Linked DNA regions of Homo sapiens: regions 2, 3, 4, 5, 6 and 7 are each reported to be linked to region 1. The links are microRNA targets in miRTarBase. Many come from high-throughput screens and were not tested one by one. Region 1 holds a microRNA gene; each other region holds the end of a gene's coding sequence.
The links. The annotated mature microRNA hsa-miR-124-3p reads UAAGGCACGCGGUGAAUGCCAA and lies in region 1 at 1,266-1,287, opposite strand. An mRNA with a match to its seed (bases 2 to 7 or 8) in the 3' UTR can be bound and repressed. Matches are read on the target gene's strand: a 7mer-m8 pairs with bases 2 to 8, a 7mer-A1 pairs with bases 2 to 7 and ends in A, and an 8mer does both.

Region 1 (3,082 bases):
TCTGTGCTGAGGACAGCCGCAGAGGCAGGTTCCCTTTGTGGCCCTGCAGCGGCGGTGGTGGGGGTGGAGATGCCACTGCCTGAAACTCAAATGGTTCCTTTTATCCTGATCTTCTGCTCCCTGCCTTGGGCCTGGAGCTGGGAGAACTTCAGGTGACTCAGACTCCTGCCTCGGATTGAAGCCGGGGAGGAGAGGCTCAGCCTCTACCTGGTTAAGAGGAAAGAGGCAAAGCTGCAAAGCCAGGTCTGGCACTCGCCCCAGGGGAAGGGGGCTTTTGGGGAGGGGGTCGTCCTCTGACTGTTACCGGGGCATCACAGCCCAGCCGGGGCCTGGGATGGGCGCGGGGGAGGCGGCGCAGAGGCGGTGCCGGGCGTCAGCAGGTGGCGCTGGCTTCCGGGGACAGAAAAAAAACCCCTGCAGCAAACCCGAGTGGGTGTCACTGCGGCTGCAGATGGCGGCGGGGGAGGGATTTGTCATTTTCTCCCTGGGCTGCGGAGTCTCACGTGCCTGGTCCTGCACAGCCCAGAGCCGGCTTTGGGGGCGGGATGCGGTCCGGCGTGTCCACCGCCCTCGTTTGGACCCTGGACGCGGACGCAGACCCCCGTCCCCATGCAAGCCTGGTCCTGGGCTGCGGGGGCTGCTCTGGGGCCACAGCGAGCGCCGCCTCCGCCCCGCCCCGCGGCGCAGCGGCCCGAGGAAGGGCAGACTTAGCGGTGACCTCAGACCCTGCCCCACCTCCTCCCACGTTGCCGTGGCAACTGTCCAGGGCGCCCGCTGTGGGGGCGAGGGCCGCACTTGGCCGCCCTCCCGTCCCGCGGGGGCCGCCCCGCCGCCAGCACCGCGGACAGCGCCGCACCCTAGCCCGCCGCCCCACGCACCCGCCCGCCGCTCCCCGTGGACCCTCCCTTTGTCTCCCGGGCCCCGCCGCCCTCTGCGGGCGCCTGGGCGCTCCGCGCTGCGGACACACGTGGCCGGGGGCCGGCTGGCCGCAGCCTGGCCCCGGCCGCAGGCTCCCCCCTCGGCCGCCCTCGGCCGCCCCCACCCGCCCCGCGACGCCAGAGGCGTGCGGGCCCCTTTGTGTCCCGCGGCCAGATCCCCGGCCCGGCAGCTGGGCCGCACTCTGGGCGGGCGCATTGTTCGCCGGATTTGTCCGCGGCGCGAATGGCCGCCGGGGGCCGGGCTCGCCTTCCTCCCGCGGGAGGGGCGCTGGGCCGGACGGGCTCGCGGGCCATTTCCATGAGAAAGGAGCGGCGGAGGCGCCTCTCTTGGCATTCACCGCGTGCCTTAATTGTATAGACATTAAATCAAGGTCCGCTGTGAACACGCAGAGGGGCCCTCAGGGCTGGGGCGGGCGGCGAGCGTCGGGGCCAGGGTCGGGACCGGCTCGGGCTTGCGTGGGGTCCTCGCCCGAGGGGCGCGAACGCTCAGGCGTCTTCGCCGCGTGGCGGGCAGGGCGGGGGCGCTGCGCTCAGCCGACTGTGCTGTCCCAGTCCGCCCCCGACTCGGAGGAGCCCACACTTCTCCCCTTTCCGCGGCAGAGAGTGGGCCCCCAAGTGCGTCCCTCCGGGCGTTCCTGGAGCTGGGGCGCCCGGGAATCGCGAAGACGGATTCCGGGGGTGGGGGTGGTGAGCGCGTGCGCACCCGGCCGCCTCCCGCGGGGCTCCGAGGGGCGCAGAACCGCTCCGACTGGGCGGCGCGAGCTCCTCCGCAGCTGCCTTCCCCTGCCGTCGCCCTGCCCGTGCCGACCCAGGAGCGCGCACCGAATGCGGTTAAAAGAACGAATCTCGATGCTCAAAGATGAAAACTCGTCTCTTTTTACAACCCAGCGAGCTCGTCCTCTCCGCGCGCAGCGGGCCCGCGAGAAGGCGCTCGAGCTGTTCGTGGAGAGAAAGACGGGGAGACCCAGAGAGGCCGCTTGCCCGGCTCGCCCCGGCCCGGCCCCGAGCGTAATTACCAGTCCCGGCGGGAGCCGCTGCTGCCGCCTCCGCTCCCTGCGCCTCCCGCGCCGCCGCCAGTTCCCGCCTGCTCTTCGGCTCCCGGGGGCCCCGCGCGCTGCTGCCCTGGGCGGAGAAGGGCGCGGGAACCCCGAGAAGGGAGCCAGGCAAGTCCCCGAGCGCCGCAGGCCGGCTGCGAGCCGAGTGTCCACGGGGTCCACGCTGCAGGCGCCCAGCTCCTGCTAGCCCGGCCCGGCCCCGATGCAACTGTCCCCGCGCCCGCCGCCGCCGCCGCCGTCGCCGTTGCCTCCGCGCGTATCCGCGCTCCGCTCCGGCACCGGCCGATTATCACTGGGGCGCGCGGTGACGTCACCCGGACACCGGCCCCGCCGCTGCCTCCCCGAGGTGTCCTTGAGAACTGCGGGGCACGCGCGCCGCGCACACGCGCACACACGCACTGCGCGCCTCGTGCCTCCCGCGCATTCGCACCGCGTCCCGCCCCGCGCGCTCCTCGGCTCACGCGGACTCAGCCATCGAGCGCCCTCGACCGTGCCCTGCGCCCGGCGGCCACACGGAGACCCAAGGAAACGCCTGTCTCCCACACACTCCAGCCCCTCACATGGCCCTCCTGCACCCACGCGCGCAGCCCCTCCAGCTGCACATTGACACCTCTAGCCACACCCCGCCACGCGCACGCCTCGCCACGCGCACGCCTCGCCGGCACGCAGCCCAGCGGCACCCGCAGACACGCACCCGCACTCGGGCCCTGACCGCGGGTTCGCGTCTCCTGTCTGGCGCCTGCAGAACGCACTCTGCCGCGCAGCTCACACCGCGGTCCTCCAAGCCTCTCAGTCCTGAGAAAGGCAAGGGTCCCGCCGGCCTCCTGCGGATGGCCCTGCTGGGCTCCGTACAGTGGGGTGGGAATTAAAGGTCGTCCTTCCCCGCCCCCATCGGAGCTTGCGGTTCTCACAGTTTCAGACCGGGATGGGAGCTCTTGCCCGTAGGGACCACGGAATCACAGGCGACACTCCACGGCCCGACTGCAGTCACTGCCAGCTCGATAGGGTCCTTGGGGCGCCCCCGATCTGGCCCTCTAGGGCCAGGGATCAGTGGCTTCCCCAAGCCTCACCGTCCGGAGCCTCCCCCGC
Region 2 (3,082 bases), not on the chromosome of region 1:
TCTGCCCCTAGTGGCGCCAGTAAGTATGACTCCAATCCTGGAAAACATCTGCCCTCCATCCCCAACTTCCACCCCTTTATCTAAGCTGCTTCACAAAGGCTAATCTCACTGTGGCTTCAGGTTCGTAATCTGGGCTTCTCTCCCTGACCCGTGCTCCTCTTGTCCCCACAGAGTTCTCCATCAGCAGCTTCTGCACCGTGGTGGACGTCGTGAACTTCTCCAAGCTGCAGGTGCTGCGCCTGGACGGGAACGAGATCAAGCGCAGCGCCATGCCTGCCGACGCGCCCCTCTGCCTGCGCCTTGCCAGCCTCATCGAGATCTGAGCAGCCCTGGCACCGGGTACTGGGCGGAGAGCCCCCGTGGCATTTGGCTTGATGGTTTGGTTTGGCTTTTGCTGGAAGGTCCAGGATGGACCATGTGACAGAAGTCCACGGGCACCCTCTGTAGTCTTCTTTCCTGTAGGTGGGGTTAGGGGGGGCGATCAGGGACAGGCAGCCTTCTGCTGAGGACATAGGCAGAAGCTCACTCTTTTCCAGGGACAGAAGTGGTGGTAGATGGAAGGATCCCTGGATGTTCCAACCCCATAAATCTCACGGCTCTTAAGTTCTTCCCAATGATCTGAGGTCATGGAACTTCAAAAGTGGCATGGGCAATAGTATATAACCATACTTTTCTAACAATCCCTGGCTGTCTGTGAGCAGCACTTGACAGCTCTCCCTCTGTGCTGGGCTGGTCGTGCAGTTACTCTGGGCTCCCATTTGTTGCTTCTCAAAATATACCTCTTGCCCAGCTGCCTCTTCTGAAATCCACTTCACCCACTCCACTTTCCTCCACAGATGCCTCTTCTGTGCCTTAAGCAGAGTCAGGAGACCCCAAGGCATGTGAGCATCTGCCCAGCAACCTGTGGAGACAACCCACACTGTGTCTGAGGGTGAAAGGACACCAGGAGTCACTTCTATACCTCCCTAACCTCACCCCTGGAAAGCCACCAGATTGGAGGTCACCAGCATGATGATAATATTCATGACCTGATGTGGGAGGAGACAGCCAACCTCAGGCTTAGATCAATGTATAGGGCTATATTTTGGCAGCTGGGTAGCTCTTTGAAGGTGGATAAGACTTCAGAAGAGGAAAGGCCAGACTTTGCTTACCATCAGCATCTGCAATGGGCCAAACACACCTCAAATTGGCTGAGTTGAGAAAGCAGCCCCAGTAGTTCCATTCTTGCCCAGCACTTTCTGCATTCCAAACAGCATCCTACCTGGGTTTTTATCCACAAAGGTAGCGGCCACATGGTTTTTAAAGTATGAGAAACACAGTTTGTCCTCTCCTTTTATCCAAGCAGGAAGATTCTATATCCTGATGGTAGAGACAGACTCCAGGCAGCCCTGGACTTGCTAGCCCAAAGAAGGAGGATGTGGTTAATCTGTTTCACCTGGTTTGTCCTAAGGCCATAGTTAAAAAGTACCAGCTCTGGCTGGGGTCCGTGAAGCCCAGGCCAGGCAGCCAAATCTTGCCTGTGCTGGGCATACAACCCTCTGCTTTCACATCTCTGAGCTATATCCTCATTAGTGAAGGTGGCTTTTGCTTTATAGTTTGGCTGGGGAGCACTTAATTCTTCCCATTTCAAAAGGTAATGTTGCCTGGGGCTTAACCCACCTGCCCTTTGGGCAAGGTTGGGACAAAGCCATCTGGGCAGTCAGGGGCAAGGACTGTTGGAGGAGAGTTAGCCCAAGTATAGGCTCTGCCCAGATGCCATCACATCCCTGATACTGTGTATGCTTTGAAGCACCTTCCCTGAGAAGGGAAGAGGGGATCTTTGGACTACGTTCTTGGCTCCAGACCTGGAATCCACAAAAGCCAAACCAGCTCATTTCAACAAAGGAGCTCCGATGTGAGGGGCAAGGCTGCCCCCTGCCCCAGGGCTCTTCAGAAAGCATCTGCATGTGAACACCATCATGCCTTTATAAAGGATCCTTATTACAGGAAAAGCATGAGTGGTGGCTAACCTGACCAATAAAGTTATTTTATGATTGCATCTACAAGAGTGGAGTCATTTAAAGCAGACTGCAGGAGGGTTACTTTAGGAGGACCTGGTGAGGTCGCAGGTCACACAGGCCTTGGACTGATGAGCCCTCTTTCTCATCTATTCTGTTCGGGCAGATGAAGCTAAGAGGAAAAAAAAATGAAAAAAAAAAGTCACTTGTATAAAAGCTGTAGTTAGCAAACTGTGTTCTGGAAGTTCTTCTTTAAGTCTAACTTCAATCCTCTCTACACATTCCCTTCCATATGGTCCCCAAGAGATATAGAATAACTGGGGTTTTTTTTTCAACCCTTTCCACCATCCTCTCTTGCAAAGCCGGTAATTCGGGATCTGGCTAGTCCTGGGTATTGTTGTCTTAACTGCTTCTGCCCTCTAGTGGCAACTGTGCAGATCTGAGGGCAGCCAAGCCTGCCAAAGCCCGTTGGCCCTGGAAGAGGAAAACAAACCTTTACCCCCCATTTGTTTTCTCATTCATCCTGTGTTCATATCGTGAAAGCCTTTGAGTGCCAGATGTTGTGATAGGTGCTTAGCAAATGTCGCATAAGTTAGGAGGGCAGACTAGGCTTGTGCCTTCAGAACAATCCACTATTTTCTGATAGGGAAATAACAACTGATAGTTATTGGGCACTAAATTCTGTACCAAGCATGTTGCAAATGTTACAACTCCATCTTAAGCCAAAGTAAACTAATTTGACTATACTTCTCTGACGTGAGAGTTAGGCAGGAATGCTAGTGTGTGAAACTACCAGAAAGAAATCATAGCTCTAATCACAGTCCTCTCCTCAAGGACAGCAGATAAGGCCCCTCTGCCTTGGATCTCCAGTACAGGAAGATGCCATGTGGAGGAGACAGAGATGTGGCACATAGGGCAGGAATTATCTAACTATAAGGAGGAATCCTCTGCCTCTCCGTTTTTGCTTCTTTGCAGCTCCCATGAGCATCCCAACCAAGACAGAGCAGGGAGAGGAATGGGAGCCAGCCCTGCTGCAAGGCTTCCCTTGTTTCTAAACCCAGTGCTTTGTAAGAAACAGAGTAGCA
Region 3 (3,076 bases), not on the chromosome of region 1:
GCCTGTAGCCCCAGCTACTCGGGAGGCTGAGGCAGGAGAATGGCATGAACCCAGGAGGCGGAGCTTGCAGTGAGCCGAGATAGTGCCAATGCAGTCCGGCCTGGGCGAAACAGCGAGACTCCGTCGCAAAAAAAAAAAAATAATAATAAATAATAAATAAAAATAAAAATAAAATAAAAAAATAAAAATAATAAAATAAATAAAAATTATTTTGAGACAAAGTCTATTCTGTGGCAGAGGCTGGAATGCAGTGGCGTGATCACAGCTTACTGCAGCTTCTACCTCCTGAGCTCAAGCGATCCTTCCACCTTGGCTTCCTGAGTAGCTGGGACCTCAGGTGTACATTACCACGCTCAGCTAATTATTTATTTATTTATTATATTTTTGTGACGGAGTTTCGCTCTTGTTGCCCGGGCTGGAGTGCAATGGTGCTATCTCAGCTCACTGCAACCTCTGCCTCCTGGATTCCAGTGATTCTCCTGTCTCAGCTTCCTGAGTAGCTGGGATTACAGGTACATGCCATCACGCCCAGCTAATTTTTGTATTTTTAGTAGAGACGGGGTTTCATCATATTGGTCAGGCTGGTCTCGAACTCCTGACCTCAGGTGATCCACCTGCCTTGGCCTCCCAAAGTGCTGGGATTACAGGCGTGAGGCACCACGCCCGGCAATTTTTTTTTTCTTTTTTTTTTTTCAGACAGAGTCTTGCTCTGTCACCCAGGCTGGAGTGCAGTAGCGTGATCTCGGTTTACTGCAACCTCCATCTCCCGGGTTCAAGCGATTCTCCTTTCTCAGCCTCCCAAGTAGCTGGGACTACAGGTGCACACCACCACGGCGGGCTAATTTTTGTATTTTTAGTAGACACCAGGTTTCACCATATTGGTCAGACTGGTCTCAAACTCCTGACCTCAGGTGATCCATCTGCCTCAGCCTCCCAAATTGCTGGGATTACAAGCGTGAGCCACACACCTGGCTTAATTTTTTTATTTTTGATCGACACAGGGTCTCCCTATGTTGTCCAAGCTGGCAGAGATTTTTGTTTGTTTGTTTGAGAGGGAATTTTGCTCTTGTAGCCCAGGCTGGAGTACAATGGTGCAATCTTGGCTCACCACAACTTCCGCCTCCCGGGTTTAACAGATTCTCCTGCCTCAGCCTCCCAAGTAGCTGGAACTACAGGCACCTACCACCACACCAGGCTAATTTTTGTGCTTTTTAGTAGAGATGAGGTTTCACCATGTTGGCCAGGCTGGTCTTAAACTCCTGGCCTCCAGTGATCCACCCGCCTTGACCTCCCAAAGTGCTGAAATTACAGGCGTGAGCCACCGCGCCTGGCCTCTCAACCTACAATTTCAACACCCAAGGAAACAGCCCACCATGAGTGAGAACCAGCAGACACAACAAACTATAGGATTAGCTGCCTCCAAACTTCAGGTGATAGAATTATCAGGCATGTACTTGAAACTAAAGGACACAAAAGAAGAATCCGAAATATAAAATAAAGGATTGGACTTGTGTGAAAAGAATCCCTTAGAAAGGGCTACTTTCAGGCTGGCCATGGTGGCTAATGGCCTGTAATCCCAGCACTTTGGAAGGCCGAGGTGTGTGGATCACCTGAGGTCAAGAGTTCAAGACCAGCCTGGCCAACATGGTGAAACCCCGTCTCTACTGAAAATACAAAAATTAGCCAGGTGGGGTGGCAGATGCCTGTAATCCCAGCTACTCGGGAGGCTGAGGCAGGAGAATCGCTTGAACTCAGGAGGCAGAGGTTGCAGTGAGCTGAGATTGCGCTATCGTGCCCCAGCCTGGGCACTAGAGTGAGATCAAAAAAAAAAAAAAAAAAAGAAGAAGAAGAAGAAAGGGCTACTTTCAGACTGCCTTGCCAAAAATCATAACCACAATGATGAGCATGTATTGAGTCAAAACAGAATCAAAAGAGAAGAAAGTCAATTTCTGTGCAAACTACTTTTATTTATAAGGAAAGTTTCTCTATTTTGTTTATAAACATTAAACCAGTGCTGTGTGAAGGCACTTAATTGGGGAGAGGTGGGGCAGGGATCCTGGTAGAGACCAATGTTTCCCACCCAGACCCCAAGACTGCTGGGAGAGATGGTGTCAGCAGTGACTCCCAGGAATATCCAGTGGTGTGGTGGCCCATCCCAGGCCCGGCTGGGCAGGTGGCTGGCTTGCTGGGGGATGTGATGATGGTGGTAGGCATGGGAGGCACTTTGGACGGGATCTGATTTGGCAAAAGGAAGTGGTTTCCTGTCCCCAGTGATTTCCAGCCCTTCCCAGACCTCCCAAGGCTAAGGCAGATTACTAAATTTAAGGCTGGGGCCCTCCTTCTTCCCTGGACTTCCAGGAGAACAGAGAACCGGTGGCAAGGACCACCACCAGCAGGGTGAGGGGTGCAGATAAAGGCAGCAAAAAACAGAGGGAGAGGTCTGGAGGGAAGGCAGGAATGCTTGTTTCTGTCAGCCTCAGAAACCTCCTTCTATCCTGCTAGACTTTACTCCTTTGAGGCTTCACCCTGGGGAACAGCTGGGGAGAGACAGGATCTTCAGACATCAGGAGCTCCCACCTCCTCATCCCACATGCAAATCCGCTGCCTGTCTCTATCCTCCCACCCCTTCCTAAGGGGACCTCTCAGCACCTCCCAAACTGCTCCAGAATCCAAGTTCTGTGTCACCTCCAAGAACCAGATGGAACCTTCCAATCAGAGCCTCCACTGATGAAATGGAATATTTCCAGTGTCTCCTAACTGCCATAAGGAGAAGCCCACCTCTCTCTAACACCTTGGTTGTCTTTTTGGGTCCCACCTCCATATTTAAAAAATCTCCTCTCTCAGGGCCGGGAGCAGTGGGTCACACCTATAATCCCAGCAGTTTGGGAGGCCGAGGTGGGTGGATGACCTGAGCTCAGGAGTTCAAGACAAGCCTGGTCAACATGACGAGACCCTGTCTCTACTAAAAACACAAAAAATTAGCTGGGCGTGGTGGTGCATGCCCGTAATCCCAGCTACTTGGGAGGCTGAGGCAGGAGAATCACTTGAATCCGGGAGGTGGAGGCTGCAGTGAGCC
Region 4 (3,082 bases), not on the chromosome of region 1:
TTAGGTGGGCGATTAAAGGTTAGAGTAGCCGCTGGAGTTTTCAAGGCCAAATGCCACCTGTGACATCCTACACAGCCAGAATCTGGGGCAACTTGTCTGGTAGGGCTGTGGTCTGACCTGGACAGCAGTTAGGGAGCTGAGCTGAGCACTTATGATTCCATATTAGATGTGGTTAGAGGTGCTTTGAAGGCACTGGGTTCAGGGGCTGAGGCCAGTAGTTAGGGTCCTCTCCTCCCGAGTGACAACATCCCCTTCTCCATCACCCCACCACCACCACCAACTCAGCTGCAACTATGTTGCCAGGAGACATGTCTCATCCCAGCTTCCAGAAATAGCCCAGTGGCCCCCACCCCAGGGAATGACTTACATCACCCAGGAGAGGGAGCAGTTTCCCGCAGGCCGCCTCGGGAGCCTCGGTTTCCTGCCAGTATCCTAGCCCTGGATCCTCTCTTCCCTGCCAACCGACATCATCTGGGACCACCCACCCTGGCTGGCATGAAATGAGATGCGAGTGGGTAGCAGTTGCCAGTCAACGTTTCTTCCCCCTCAGGGTTGCACAGGGTGGAGTTTCATGGCGAAGCCAGTCCAACAAGCCCTCAATTGCCACTCCATCTCTTAGCAGCTGTGTGGCCTTGGGGAAACCCCTTCCCCTTTCTGGGCCTCAGGCACCTCACCTGCATGGTGGAGACAGAACTTGTCTCTAAGGGTACTTCCAGCCTGGATTATTCCTCCTAATTCTTTCATCCCTGATTCAAGCTCTCCAATCTCAGCTTCTAGCTCTATGAGCTCATCTCAAATCCTCTGATCCTGAAAGCCTGATCTGGATCCAACTATCTTGGTGTTAGGAAGGAAAAGTCAGGAGTTGTTGAAAGAACGTGGGCTTTGAAGTCCTGGCTCAGCCACAGGGCCCTGGGCAAGTCACTTAGCAGCACTGGTTGCCCCTACCTTACTGGATACTGAAGGAGCTACAACACTGCAGCTCTTAAGTATTGGACACACAGTAGGTCAACAGCATCGATGACTAGTGAGCCAGTCCCTTGGCTGTGTGCTGGCTGGGGGTGTTCCCATACCTGGACCTGAAGATCACCAAGTTACCTTGCAAGGTCTACATTTCAAGAGACACCACAGGCTGTTCTCCAAAGGACTCCCAGCTGAACTCAGAGCAACAAGAGAGGGGTGTGGGCAGGGTGCGAGGGGCAGTGCAAAAGGGAGCTCCTGGTCTTCACTGGGGACCTGGGGTGTGGGAAGAATTCCTAGCCACAAGTGGGAAGGCATCCAGGCAATCAGAAGAGCAAGGGCAGTGGGGTTGTGGTGAAAAACAGTGGGAAGAGCTTTCAAGGACAAGGTCCCCATGGAACAGAGGAGCAGTCTGATGAAGCCGGCGCATGCCTGAGACCACTATCATCAAGCTCTGGGGCTCATGTGCCTCTGAGGTCAGGAGACGGTTTCCCAGGCCTGGATTTGGCCCATTCTGATTAGGGTTAGGCCCTCTATACTGATCTGGCCACAGACCCACTAGCAGCCAGGGTGGGGCCCCTCCTTCAGAATCAAGCAAAAGCTGTGGCCCTCAGGGGGCTGCACCGAGCACCTAGGACATTGATCACTGCATCCAAAGGTCCAAAGTTTTATTGTTTTGAATACATTCTCCAGCGGCCCCTCTACTCCCCCCACCCTCAGTCCCCAATACAGAATAAGGCTTGACCACAGCCCCCCACCCCACCCCAGAGGCCCCAGCTGGGAGGCAGAGGGGGCTTCCAGTTTGGTTTCAGGGCACCCCCTTCCCATCCCCCCACCCGCCTGCCCATGGGCCAGTCCTAGGAGCAGCTGGGGATGAAGGGGTTGGACCGGTGCTGGGGTGGGGAGTGGGAGAGGGATAGCAGGCACTTGTAGAGATTTGTGGCCCATGGGCGGCACCCCTCACCCTCCTCCGCCCCCCACCCCCCAACACATGGAATTTTTGGTTCATTATAAAATTGTCCCTCCCTCCCCTGCTGTGACCTTGTGGGGTATGAGAAACCTAGGCACTCATGGCCCCCTGGAGGGGCAGGGCAGGCAGGGCTGGGGCTGAGGAGGGCTGGGAGTGGGGCAGAGCGGGTGGGTCAGAGGGGTACAAGAGGCAGAGAACAGGGAGGGAGACAAGGCTTTACTTCCTAAGCGATTGTAATAGAAAAGTTCCTGGGTGTTAAGGCCAAAGCCTCAATTCAAATATAAATTCCCCAGAATGGAGGTGACCCCCTTAACTTCCCCCTCCCTCCCCCTACCACCACTTTGCCCAGAGCTTAGAAACCCACAGAGACAGGGAATAGCCCCTAGCCCTGGGCACCCACCCACCCCCACCATTTTTAAAAAAAAGAAATTAAAGTTTTATACAAAATGTGGGGAGGGAAAAGGGAGGAGGCAGGGAAGAGACAAGAGAGCTGCCCTCACCTCCAGGGCATAGGGGGCTTAAGGCAGCAAAAGAAGCATGGGGGGTGCGGGGCACACAGGTCCCCTGCCCACAGCCCTCAGGAGTCTCGGTGCTCCAGGGAGAGCTGGGCCGTGGCATGCTGGAGGTCAGAGCTCACCCGCCTTGGGGTGAGGGGCCCCCCAGCCTCCCCAGGCCCCTCCCCACGCACCTTCTTGTCCTCACCCTCATCCTCAAAGCCCCCAGCGGGGCCCCCACCCCCTTCGAGGCGACAGTCTTCACTCCAGCGCCGCTTAAAGCGTAGCTTGAGGGGCATGCACTGGGATGCCCCGGGTGCCTCGCCGGGCTCAGGCTTAGGGGGTGCAGGTGGGGCACGGGGCGTCTTGAACACCTCCCCGTCTTCCTCATCCTCATCACTGATGTCAGTCACCTCTACCTCCTCCGACTCGCCTTCCGAGATGGGCTCCACCTTGATCTGTGGTGGCGGGGGCGGTGGGGCTAGCGCCCCTGCCCCCTCAGCCAGCCCGCCTGCACTGCCACCGCTCTTGTCAGCACCGGCTACGGCCTTCTCCCCAGCTGCCCGCTGCCGGCGTCCGAGTGGGGGCGGCTGGAGCTTAAACTTGAATGGGGAGGAAGAAGAAGAAGAGGATGACGAGGCCGAGGAGGGGACCGGTGGGG
Region 5 (3,082 bases), not on the chromosome of region 1:
GAAATCCAAAGCATCCGAGTGATGCTCTGAATCATGCGCCGTGTGGAAGGAATGTGCTGGCAGGCGCAGATCGCCGGCTGAGTGTTCCACTGAAATTAAACTCAAGTGCTGACTTCTCGTTTTTTACCTCCCCACCCCTTCCCTCAAGGTTGGTCTCCGCCAGCTGGACATGTCCTTGCTCTGCCAACTGTACAGCCTCTACGAGTCGATTCAGGAGTACAAGGGGGCATGCCAGGCAGCCTCCAGCCCAGACTGCACTTACGCTCTGGAGAACGGCTTCTTCGATGAAGAGGAGGAATATTTCCAGGAGCAGAACTCCCTGCACGACAGGAGGGACCGAGGCCCTCCTCGGGACTTGTCACTGCCTGTCTCCTCCCTCTCCAGCAGCGACTGGATTCTGGAGTCCATCTAGAGGGTCTTGGGAGGGATGTGACTGTTGGGAAGCCCTTCCTACTGGACACGCTGTCATCATTTGCTGCTTCTCTTGCAAGAAAGCACCTCCGTTGTGGACGGTCCTCGGGCACAGGGGATGAGCGCTACCAGTTTCATTTGTAGGCAGGGAGTTCTCCGCGGATGCATGGTGGCAGTCTGCTTTGATGGCAGCAGTTTCTGCTTAGGTGACCTAGAGGTCCTCAGCAGTATCCTCCACACCTATTTATTGAGGTGCACCTGCTGGGGATTCATAATGAGAATATAACAAGAGGATCTCGGTGAAAGGCCTTAGTGGGTGTTTTGTGTGAGGTGGCTTGTAGCTAGCTACTTCCTTACAGATGGTAGAGTATTCCAATCCTCTTTGTGTTAGGGTTCTTGCTTCCAGTTTGGGATGTATTAAAACCACCATTTCACTGCTTCCCTTCCTCAATATGCTCTGCAGCTTTTCTTGCTGTTTAAACCTCTCGCCTCAGCTTTATTTATTTGTAAGCTGCATTACTAACTGCCCAGTGATTCGGTGAAAGCTTTTTACTGAAAAAGTTAACATTTCTAGTCATCCCAATCAACTGGCTTTTTTCAACCAAAATTTTATATCATTCTTTGTCTATCAGATACGAGAGGAAGGAAGATAATACGAAGACATGTTGAATAGTGAAAAAAAAAAAAAGAACACAAAAACTGGGGCAAGCCAATGTGATGTATCACTCACTGTAAGATGGCAAATGTTTTCATTTTTAAGATTCCGAATGTAAACTAGTGTGCTAGAAAGCAAACCACCCGCCACTCAAACCAGTAATTACCTTAAGCCTTAATATATTTATTAAAATACTTTATGAGAACATTACACTTTGTAGGTTAAAAATGAGGATAAAATGCTAAACTATCTGTGTCATGTGTTATTTTATTCTGAATTTGGAATCATCAACTTTCATGACTTGAATGCATTGAGTCCAGTCAAATAATGAAAGAAAATTAGTTTGTTTTTCTGCCACTAAATGCATTTGAAACAAGATTGACTCTGTTGAGCTTAAGGAATCGTTTTAGCAAGAGTAGATCACCATTTACAGCTGGTTCTCAGTGCTCTTTTTTTTCTTTGAGACGGAGTCTAGCTCTGCTGCCTAGGCTGGAGTGCAGTGGCACGATCTTGGCTCCCTGCAACCTCTGCCTCTCTGGGTTTAAGCAATTCTCCCACCTCAGCCTTCCGAGTAGCTGGGATTACAGGCGCCTGCCACCACGCCCAGCTGATTTTTGTATTTTTAATGGAGATGGGGTTTCACTGTGTTGTCCTAGCTGGTCTTGAACTCCTGACCTCGTGATCCACCCGCCTCGGCCTCCCAAAGTGCTGGGATTACAAGTGTGAGCCACCATGCCTGGCTGCTCTTCTGTCTTTGAATGCTGCAGACTCCTTCATCTTTCTTTTGGTGTGATAATTGCTCACTAGAGCGTCCTTCAGGTTAGGGAGAGGAAGGCACCTCAATGTCATGCATCGCCAAGTGTTAACCTGTCAAGTACACCCTGGGTCAGGAACTGGGGTGAGATACAGAGAAGGAGGAATACGCCTGCTTATTTCCTCTGTTGAAAGGAGTTAAAATGAGAGGTGGCAATTAATTGCCTTCAGCACATAACTGGTCAGTGGGGACAAGAAAATTAAAAGCAGTTAAGACCAACAGAGTTAAGTCTGGATCACTTGCAGGAAGTTCCTTTGAGGCTGTTCCATGCTTACAGTGAGTTGAACCTTTAGATCAGCTGTTCTTGAACCTGGCCACTTTAAGAATCACCTGGGGAATGTTTAGAAAAATACTGATGCCTAGGGCTGGGCGCGGTGGCCCACGCCTGTAATTCCAGCACTTTGGGAGGTCAAGGCAGGCACATCACAAGGTCAGGGGATTGAGACCATCCTGGCCAACATTGTGAAACCCCGTCTCTACTAAAAATACAAAAATTAGCCAGACATGGTGGTGCGTGCCTGTAGTTCCAGCTACTCGGGAGGCTGAGGCAGGAGAATCACTTGAACCCAGGAGGCAGAAGTTGCAGTGAGCCGAGATCGTGCCACCGCACTCTAGCCTGGTGACAGAGTGAGACTCCATCTCAAAAAAAAGAAAAAAAAGAAAAATACTGATGCCTGGGCTCCAGCACCCTGCATGCCTAGTCTGGATTTAAGTAGGAGTGAGGCGTGGGCGCCTCTATGGATCGAGGAAGCCTCCCAGGTGATTCTAATGTGTAGAAATGTTGAGATACAGTCCTTCAGCTACATAGTGTTCAAAGCGTGGTGCGTAGATCAGACATGGACAATCTCAAAGCACCCCAGCCTTGCTGAATCAGCCCCTGCCTCTTAAGATGCCTCTGATGATTCCTTTCACAAAGCTTGGGAAGCAGCTTTCTGTCGGCCCAGTGCCTAGCACTTGGAGACCACCTCTCCATAGAGGGCTACCAGGATCTCCTTCAGCACTGCGGAAGAGTGGGCCCCAGGGCATGATTAGGAGACCCCAGTCCTTTCAGAATGGGTCAACAATAGCAAGGGAGTGAAGCTCGAAGGACAAGTTCAGGCTTGGGGGAACTCATGGTTCAGAATGGCTCCCTTCCCTGGGTTGCTGCCTCTAGGCTGTTCTGGAACTGCAGTGATTCATTGTGCTTTTGAGTTTTGGGGCTT
Region 6 (3,082 bases), not on the chromosome of region 1:
ACCCCTAGGGAAAATGTGCCTGCAGCCCCCGGGTCTGTCAGGAGACTGAGCAGTTCTCACATTAACATTCTCTTATAAATGGTAGGACATGGGAGGATGCTATGCTCGTTATGTTTTCTCGCTTGGAATATCTGCTGCTCTGTCCTCTTTGCTCATCCACATTTTTTGAATATGCCAAACCCCAGTCAAACGTCCGCTACCTCCTCCAGGGAGCTCCCAGTCAGAATGGTTCTCTCTTCCTTGTTGCCTCCAAATACACATGCCTATTAGTTCGGACTCGCTTCACTCCTCTATCTCCCCATCAGATGCCCAGCTTATTGAGGACAAAGAGCCTTTCCAGCCCATCTCTTTACCACACCCCCACTGCTTCCCACGGTGTTTTGCACGTGACATATGCTTGGGGGTTCCAAGACATATATCCCATTACTACATTCACACTATGGACATAGGAAGTGTCGCCATGGGTGGGGAGCTTGTCTCAGTTTGCTGAGCCCAAATGTTTGGCCAGGCTAGAATGGAAGAACTTTGGAGAAAATCTGGAGAATCCAGAGGGTCAGTATGAATTCAGCAGGAAGGACAGTGGTCCCTCCGACAGCCTCCTCTGGATCTGCTCTGCTTCAGCTGCTGTGGAGCTGGTGTGCATGGGTGGCCCAAAGGCAGGGACAAGACATGCTCATATCCTTGGAAGTGTTTTCCCTTCCGGTTCTATGGAGACTCCCAGCTGTCTGAAACTTCAAGTGCCCAAACTCAGTGATGCTTTTGGTTTGGCCCACCAGAGCAGCTGTAGCTATGGCCTGGCCCTTTGAACCAGAAGCCTGGTTCAAATCAACAGTTGAACAAGAAATCAACAATTTCTTGATAAACTTGAGTTTATCAAGTTTTCCTCTTGCACATGCATACCTTGGGCTACTCCTGACCTGCCCTCCCAGTCCATTAGTGCCCCACTTCCCCTTGTAGAGTGTACTTATAGAAAGTGCGAAAGTCTCTGGAAGGATTTCCAAAACACAGATGTGCCTCCAGAATTACATGAACATCTGCTCAGCAGAACTTTCAGACTTGGCATTTTGTCTACATCAGGAAGCAGGATTTACTCAGAGAAGGGTACACTTCTCTTATTCTGAATTTAAAAAAGAATGAGGAAGGAATCATAGTCAGAAGCAGGCCCAAGGAGCCTTAAGAAAAGAAAAGCATGAAATCATGGAAGTCTTTATAAACTCAAGGGAGAGACATTGTCCAGATTCTAAAATTCCACCATACTATGACTAAAATACTTTAATTCACAGCTTTCTTTAAAAAAAAGTATTTCCTCTATGCTTTGAAGTCTCTGTAGAGTGAGAATGACACTATCTTCTGAGTTTGTCCAAATTTATTTGAGTATGGTGGTATATCAGCCCTCTCGGGCTAAAAAAACTATATACAAAACATGCAGATCATCCATGTTAAAAAAAAAACAGGAGAAATATATAGCTAGATTGTTGAGGAAGGAGAAATGTTGGGAATTATAACACTAAAGTCCATATTAGTTAAAGTTCTATTTTTTGCAATGTATTTTTTTAAAAAAATCACTTAATTGCTGTTTGTGAAATAAAACAGAAGCCCAAATGAAATACAATTGTCTTCTGAACAATTTCCACCAACTATCTTTTTGGGAAAAAAAAAAAGAAACTTTCATTGCTATATTTTAAAAATGTCCACAAATGAAAACACAGCCATTGAACACAAAGATTATGTACAATCCCTCCCAAAGAGTATGTGCTAAAAAGCACAAAACAAATCACGACTAAACAGAGTAATCATATTTAGAAAACCTAAGATGTCATTTTCATGATCAAAATAAAGGTGGCTGAGTCATGAATATACTTCAAAAAAGCTTGAACTTTTCTTTGTGCTATAAAAGGATGATCGACAATAACCAAAACTTACATTGTTTGAATCCAAGTTCTTTTTCACCCTTCTCAATGTATAACTTCCTAGTAATATGGGACAGCTACAGAACCATTCATCATGAGCCTTTCATTAGTTAGCCAGGTCCTCCCAAGTAAGGCCACCGAAATAATCAACACAGAGGGGTCACTACATCCCGAGCTAAACCTCCAGCAAAGGAAGACACTGATCAAGCCAGACCTTTCAACTCTCAACAAGCAATGTCCCCTGTGTGACCCAGACTGCAAAGCAGAGCCATCACAATTCCCCCAAAACCCCCCCAGATGTCCAGACCTCATTCTAACCTTTGAAAATCAGAACTCTGAGAGGGAATGCAGGCCTGGGTATTTTTTTGAAGTTCAACAAGGAACTACTGCTTTAGAAACTCCTGATATAATTCTGTATAGTGTTCAGTATTTAAAAAGAAAAAGCAGCAGCCAAACACTAACCCTCATATGTGTGAAGCAGCTTTGTAGTTTTATTCAATGTTGAAACTAAAATGTCAATAAATAAGAAGTAAAAAGAATAGCAAACAGAAATAGCTTACACAGTGTTTATTTGACACTGAAACGAAGAGCTTCTGTACAATAGAAAGCACAGTGTGTGCCTGGCTCTAAGGCAGGATGCTAAGAGAGAGAACCAGGGTCAGCTGGAGAATAGACAAATGCAGAGCTCAGAGAGGTGGGACATCCAGCTCGACGAGGGAGTCTTGGGAGAAGTGAAGCAAAGAAACTTATCTGCGTGAAGATAAAAAGGTGGGAGGAAAAAAAAAGTGGCACAATGAGAAAAAAAAAAAAAAGAAAGGAAACCAAACCAATAGATGAGAGCACTTGAAACACAGACAAGAAGCAGTCATGCAAACCCCACTGCCAGCCACACCCTTGGAAGGACATCCATCTTCCCACCTGAGGCCGTCACAGGCCGCCTTTCGGCAAGGGTCCATTTTAAGAAGACCCATGAACAGAATTTAAAAACAAAAAAAATTTTAAGCTACACTCGTCTTTCAGAATATTTAATCATACTTGATGCAAAAAGTTTTTCCCAAAGAATCACCACATTTTAGCACTGAAAAAGACCTTAGAGACAGATGATCTGCTCCACCCCCTCATTTACAAATGAGGGATGAGAAGACACATTTTCTCTGGTTTCCATGGCAACA
Region 7 (3,082 bases), not on the chromosome of region 1:
AGCAGTTGTTTTATGAGAAAGAAGAATTGTGGCCCATGCTTTCTGTGGACAGTAAAATTTCTACTCAGCTGGAGTGATAAAAAAATGGCACTTCTGGTTATTTTAATCTTCTGATGAGCTGATATTTACCAATTTCAAAGAATGATAATAGAAGAAAATGAGCTCATTGCAAAAGTTCTATGCAAAATCAAGATGACTAGGATTGCTTTTTCATGGTCTGGTTCAGAATAGCAAATTGAGGCCATCGATAATTCAAAGGTATCTTGAAGGGCTTTCAGAGCCTTGGCCACATCACCGTCGTTAGGTTTATGTAACAAGTCTGGCTATTTTGAGTCTTTATAGATAATTTCTAATACTTGGCAGTAGTTCTAATTGTAAGTCTCCTCCACACAAGTCTTTCTTTAGTACAGCAATTAAAAATGCTTAGTCTTAACTACTGAGTAAAGTATTTACTGACCACTTCAACCCAAGTGTCAAGCTTTTCTTCTTTCTCATTTCCGTATTCTGATAGAATTCATTGACTCTACTGAGCAACTGGAGGAGTTTGATCTGGAGGAAGATTTTGAGATTCTGAGTGTGTAGAATCCTGGGAACTCAACTTGAAGGTCTGTCTTCCATCTGGCACCATAAAAACATGAACTTATTGCATAAAACTTTTCTAGTCAGCAAGTGCCTGATATGCCAATAGCATACAAACTCAATAGCAATCATGACTGAGCCAATCACTGTTTCTCAGAAAAACAAAACAAAACAAAACAAATGACAGTAACCCTTCCCCGGAAAGAAATAGAACAATCATGGAGCCTAGGAGCAGAGAGATGAGGAGGAGTTCATTGCTTCCCAGCTTGTGTTATATGGCTACAGCAAGTCTTCAGCTGCTGCAATGAGGAAATGGGCATCTGGAAGACAAACAGCAACTCTCAGCTTGCTTCAAGAACCAGCAGATAAGAGATGGTTAAGCTGTTCTTCACCCTTTCAGATGTGACCTCTTTTGGACTAAGCAGCAATCTGTTCTCTTGCTCAAATAATAAAGTGACTGAATCAGGGAGGAAAAGGTTCTTGTTAAATTATTTGATTGTGTAGTTGAAGTAATTATAATTTATATCAAAACGTTTGTCAAAGAAACGATGTCAAATATACACTTCTTGATCTCCCTTCTGTTTGCGGGGATCTTACTATTTGATGGGTCACTGTCCCCATTCTTACTGATACTTTTGTCAGATATCACCCTGTCCTTAAATCATGATCACTTAAATCAGGGGTCAGCAAACTTTTTCTGTAAAGGGCCAGACGGGAAATATTTTGGGCTTTGCAGGCCATGCGGCCTCTGTCACATCTACTCAACTCTGCTGTTGACATGCAAAAGCAGCAATAGACAATATGCGTGTAAATGAGTGTGGCTGTAATCCAAGAAAACTTTATTTACAAAAGCAGGTGGAGGGCTGGGTTTGGCCTGCAGGCTGTAGCTTGCCAATCAGTGACTTAAATTGTTGATTTTTGTTTGATAAATTAAAAATAAATTGTGTTTGAAGTATACCCTACTTGGTTGACAGCCATATTTAGAATTATTCATGTGGTGAATTACACATTTTATCTGTGCATCATATACAATTCCAAACCATTTGAGGCTAGCAACATAATAGGTTTTAAAGCATGTATTCATCAAATTAGCTTTGCTAACCACTTTCCTGTGAGGATGAACCTCAAGCCCCAGCAGTACCTTCTCATTTTCCTTTTCTTGCTTCCTTAACTTGCCTGCATTTCACCCCCATCCTTAATCAAGTCCCGAGGAAGGCCAGCAACTGGAAGCTAGCACCAAACCAATCTGCTTGTTTCCTTAGATTCCATGTTTTTCTTTTTCCCCCCGTATATTCCAATGGTTCAAAATTCAAAAGATGTAAAATGATATTCAGTGACTTGTCTCTCTCTCCGATAGGTCAGTTCCCTCCCTTGGAAATTCCCAATGGTATTAATTTCTTGTTTATCCTCTCAGAGGATATATTTTATACATATATAAATATATGCACACACACACACACATATACACACACACACTCATACACACACAGCTTGGATTTGATTTTAATGACTTTAACATTCTCTACTTTTGTTTTATCTACAAATGATCCTAAGGCCACAGAAGTATGAAAATGCCTTTCTTGAACTCTTTTTTTATTCAAAAAATTTATTTATTTTTATCAACCTACATCATGCTTTGATATGTTGAACTCTAGCGTGTGACAGGGATAAAAGCAGGCATAGGCTTATCTTGAAGCAGCTTATGGGTTTGTTGACTGTTTGTTAGAGGACTGTTTCAGCTCTTTGACTTTGATCATCTTCTAATTTTTTCCTGCCTCAGTGTTTTGTTACAGAGTTCGACTTGGCAGTAGCAGAAACCTCTCAGGCTCTGAGAGGGACTCATAAATTGCAGTGAGATGGACATTAGAAAAGTTTTCATAAAGGAACATCAAAAGAGTCACATGTTCAGATTTCATTTATTTTATTTGCTATGTACAAAACTGACACCATGCTTATTACTCAGGAGGTAAAGATAACAATAATTCAGATTATATTGATTATGCTTTGTCTGTATTGGCACAGTTTATATAATACTTAAGGAAACAGAATCACCTGGAAGGAACTGCCTCATGTCAACATAGCTAAGAGTGTTCTGGAAAACTGGTAATTAAAGAAAATGGCTAAAACAAATTCCCCCAAACAGAATACAATGTACTGCATAGCCAATTCAGGCTTGCTTTAGGTCTGCTAACTGCTCAAGAGAAGAGTGTGCTAGATTTTTATGAGGTTTAAAAAAACATATTAAAATAGTTTAATAGGCTACCTGTGAAAGAGCAATTGGATAACCATTTAACAAAGTCTTTAACATCCTCAGAATACAAGGAAACCAACACTGTGCAGCTTCAGTTTGCCACATTGCACACATCTGGATGGCATTTGGAATAAACAGGGACTTCTGAGAAACTGGGATGTGGGATTTACCTTTTTGTTCCTGGAGTCAAAAGCAAAACTCACACATCCTTACGCACCCACCCCTCTACTTCTGGCCCAGGAAAAAAGGCTG

Region 2: miRTarBase lists FMOD as a target of hsa-miR-124-3p. Seed matches in the 3' UTR shown: 8mer at 848-855.
Region 3: the mRNA of PPP1R13L is a reported target of hsa-miR-124-3p. Seed matches in the 3' UTR shown: 7mer-A1 at 2,304-2,310 and 7mer-m8 at 2,022-2,028.
Region 4: miRTarBase lists ERF as a target of hsa-miR-124-3p. Seed matches in the 3' UTR shown: 7mer-A1 at 2,447-2,453.
Region 5: the mRNA of FAM89A is a reported target of hsa-miR-124-3p. The part of its 3' UTR that is shown has no 7-base or 8-base seed match.
Region 6: the mRNA of TPM1 is a reported target of hsa-miR-124-3p. Seed matches in the 3' UTR shown: 7mer-A1 at 2,538-2,544.
Region 7: miRTarBase lists ATG4A as a target of hsa-miR-124-3p. The part of its 3' UTR that is shown has no 7-base or 8-base seed match.

The regions. Positions count from the first base shown.
Region 1 is chr20:63,176,757-63,179,838 of GRCh38, reverse strand. MIR124-3 (microRNA 124-3) reads right to left here and starts at 1,339; the gene lies at 1,253-1,339. RefSeq lists a silencer at 555-844 and an enhancer at 1,132-2,092.
Region 2 is chr1:203,339,584-203,342,665 of GRCh38, reverse strand. It overlaps FMOD (fibromodulin), which reads left to right. Exons shown (of 3, transcript NM_002023.5): 3 at 172-2,038. The coding sequence ends at 323. Among named protein-coding and RNA genes, the nearest start is that of FMOD, 10 kb to the left of the region's middle. RefSeq lists an enhancer at 1-275.
Region 3 is chr19:45,377,692-45,380,767 of GRCh38, forward strand. PPP1R13L (protein phosphatase 1 regulatory subunit 13 like) reads right to left here. Exons shown (of 13, transcript NM_006663.4): 13 at 1,947-2,537. The coding sequence ends at 2,499. Among named protein-coding and RNA genes, the nearest start is that of ERCC2, 8.7 kb to the left of the region's middle.
Region 4 is chr19:42,245,961-42,249,042 of GRCh38, forward strand. It overlaps ERF (ETS2 repressor factor), which reads right to left. Exons shown (of 4, transcript NM_006494.4): 4 at 1,609-3,082. The coding sequence ends at 2,505. Among named protein-coding and RNA genes, the nearest start is that of GSK3A, 4.9 kb to the left of the region's middle. RefSeq lists a silencer at 1,197-1,491.
Region 5 is chr1:231,017,193-231,020,274 of GRCh38, reverse strand. FAM89A (family with sequence similarity 89 member A) reads left to right here. Exons shown (of 2, transcript NM_198552.3): 2 at 149-1,317. The coding sequence ends at 412. It overlaps MIR1182 (microRNA 1182), which reads left to right and starts at 351; the gene lies at 351-447.
Region 6 is chr15:63,065,474-63,068,555 of GRCh38, reverse strand. It overlaps TPM1 (tropomyosin 1), which reads right to left. Exons shown (of 10, transcript NM_001018005.2): 10 at 2,378-2,660. The coding sequence ends at 2,657. Among named protein-coding and RNA genes, the nearest start is that of TPM1-AS, 18 kb to the right of the region's middle.
Region 7 is chrX:108,153,131-108,156,212 of GRCh38, forward strand. It overlaps ATG4A (autophagy related 4A cysteine peptidase), which reads left to right. Exons shown (of 13, transcript NM_052936.5): 13 at 512-1,541. The coding sequence ends at 582. It overlaps COL4A6 (collagen type IV alpha 6 chain), which reads right to left. Exons shown (of 45, transcript NM_033641.4): 45 at 2,484-3,082. Among named protein-coding and RNA genes, the nearest start is that of ATG4A, 63 kb to the left of the region's middle.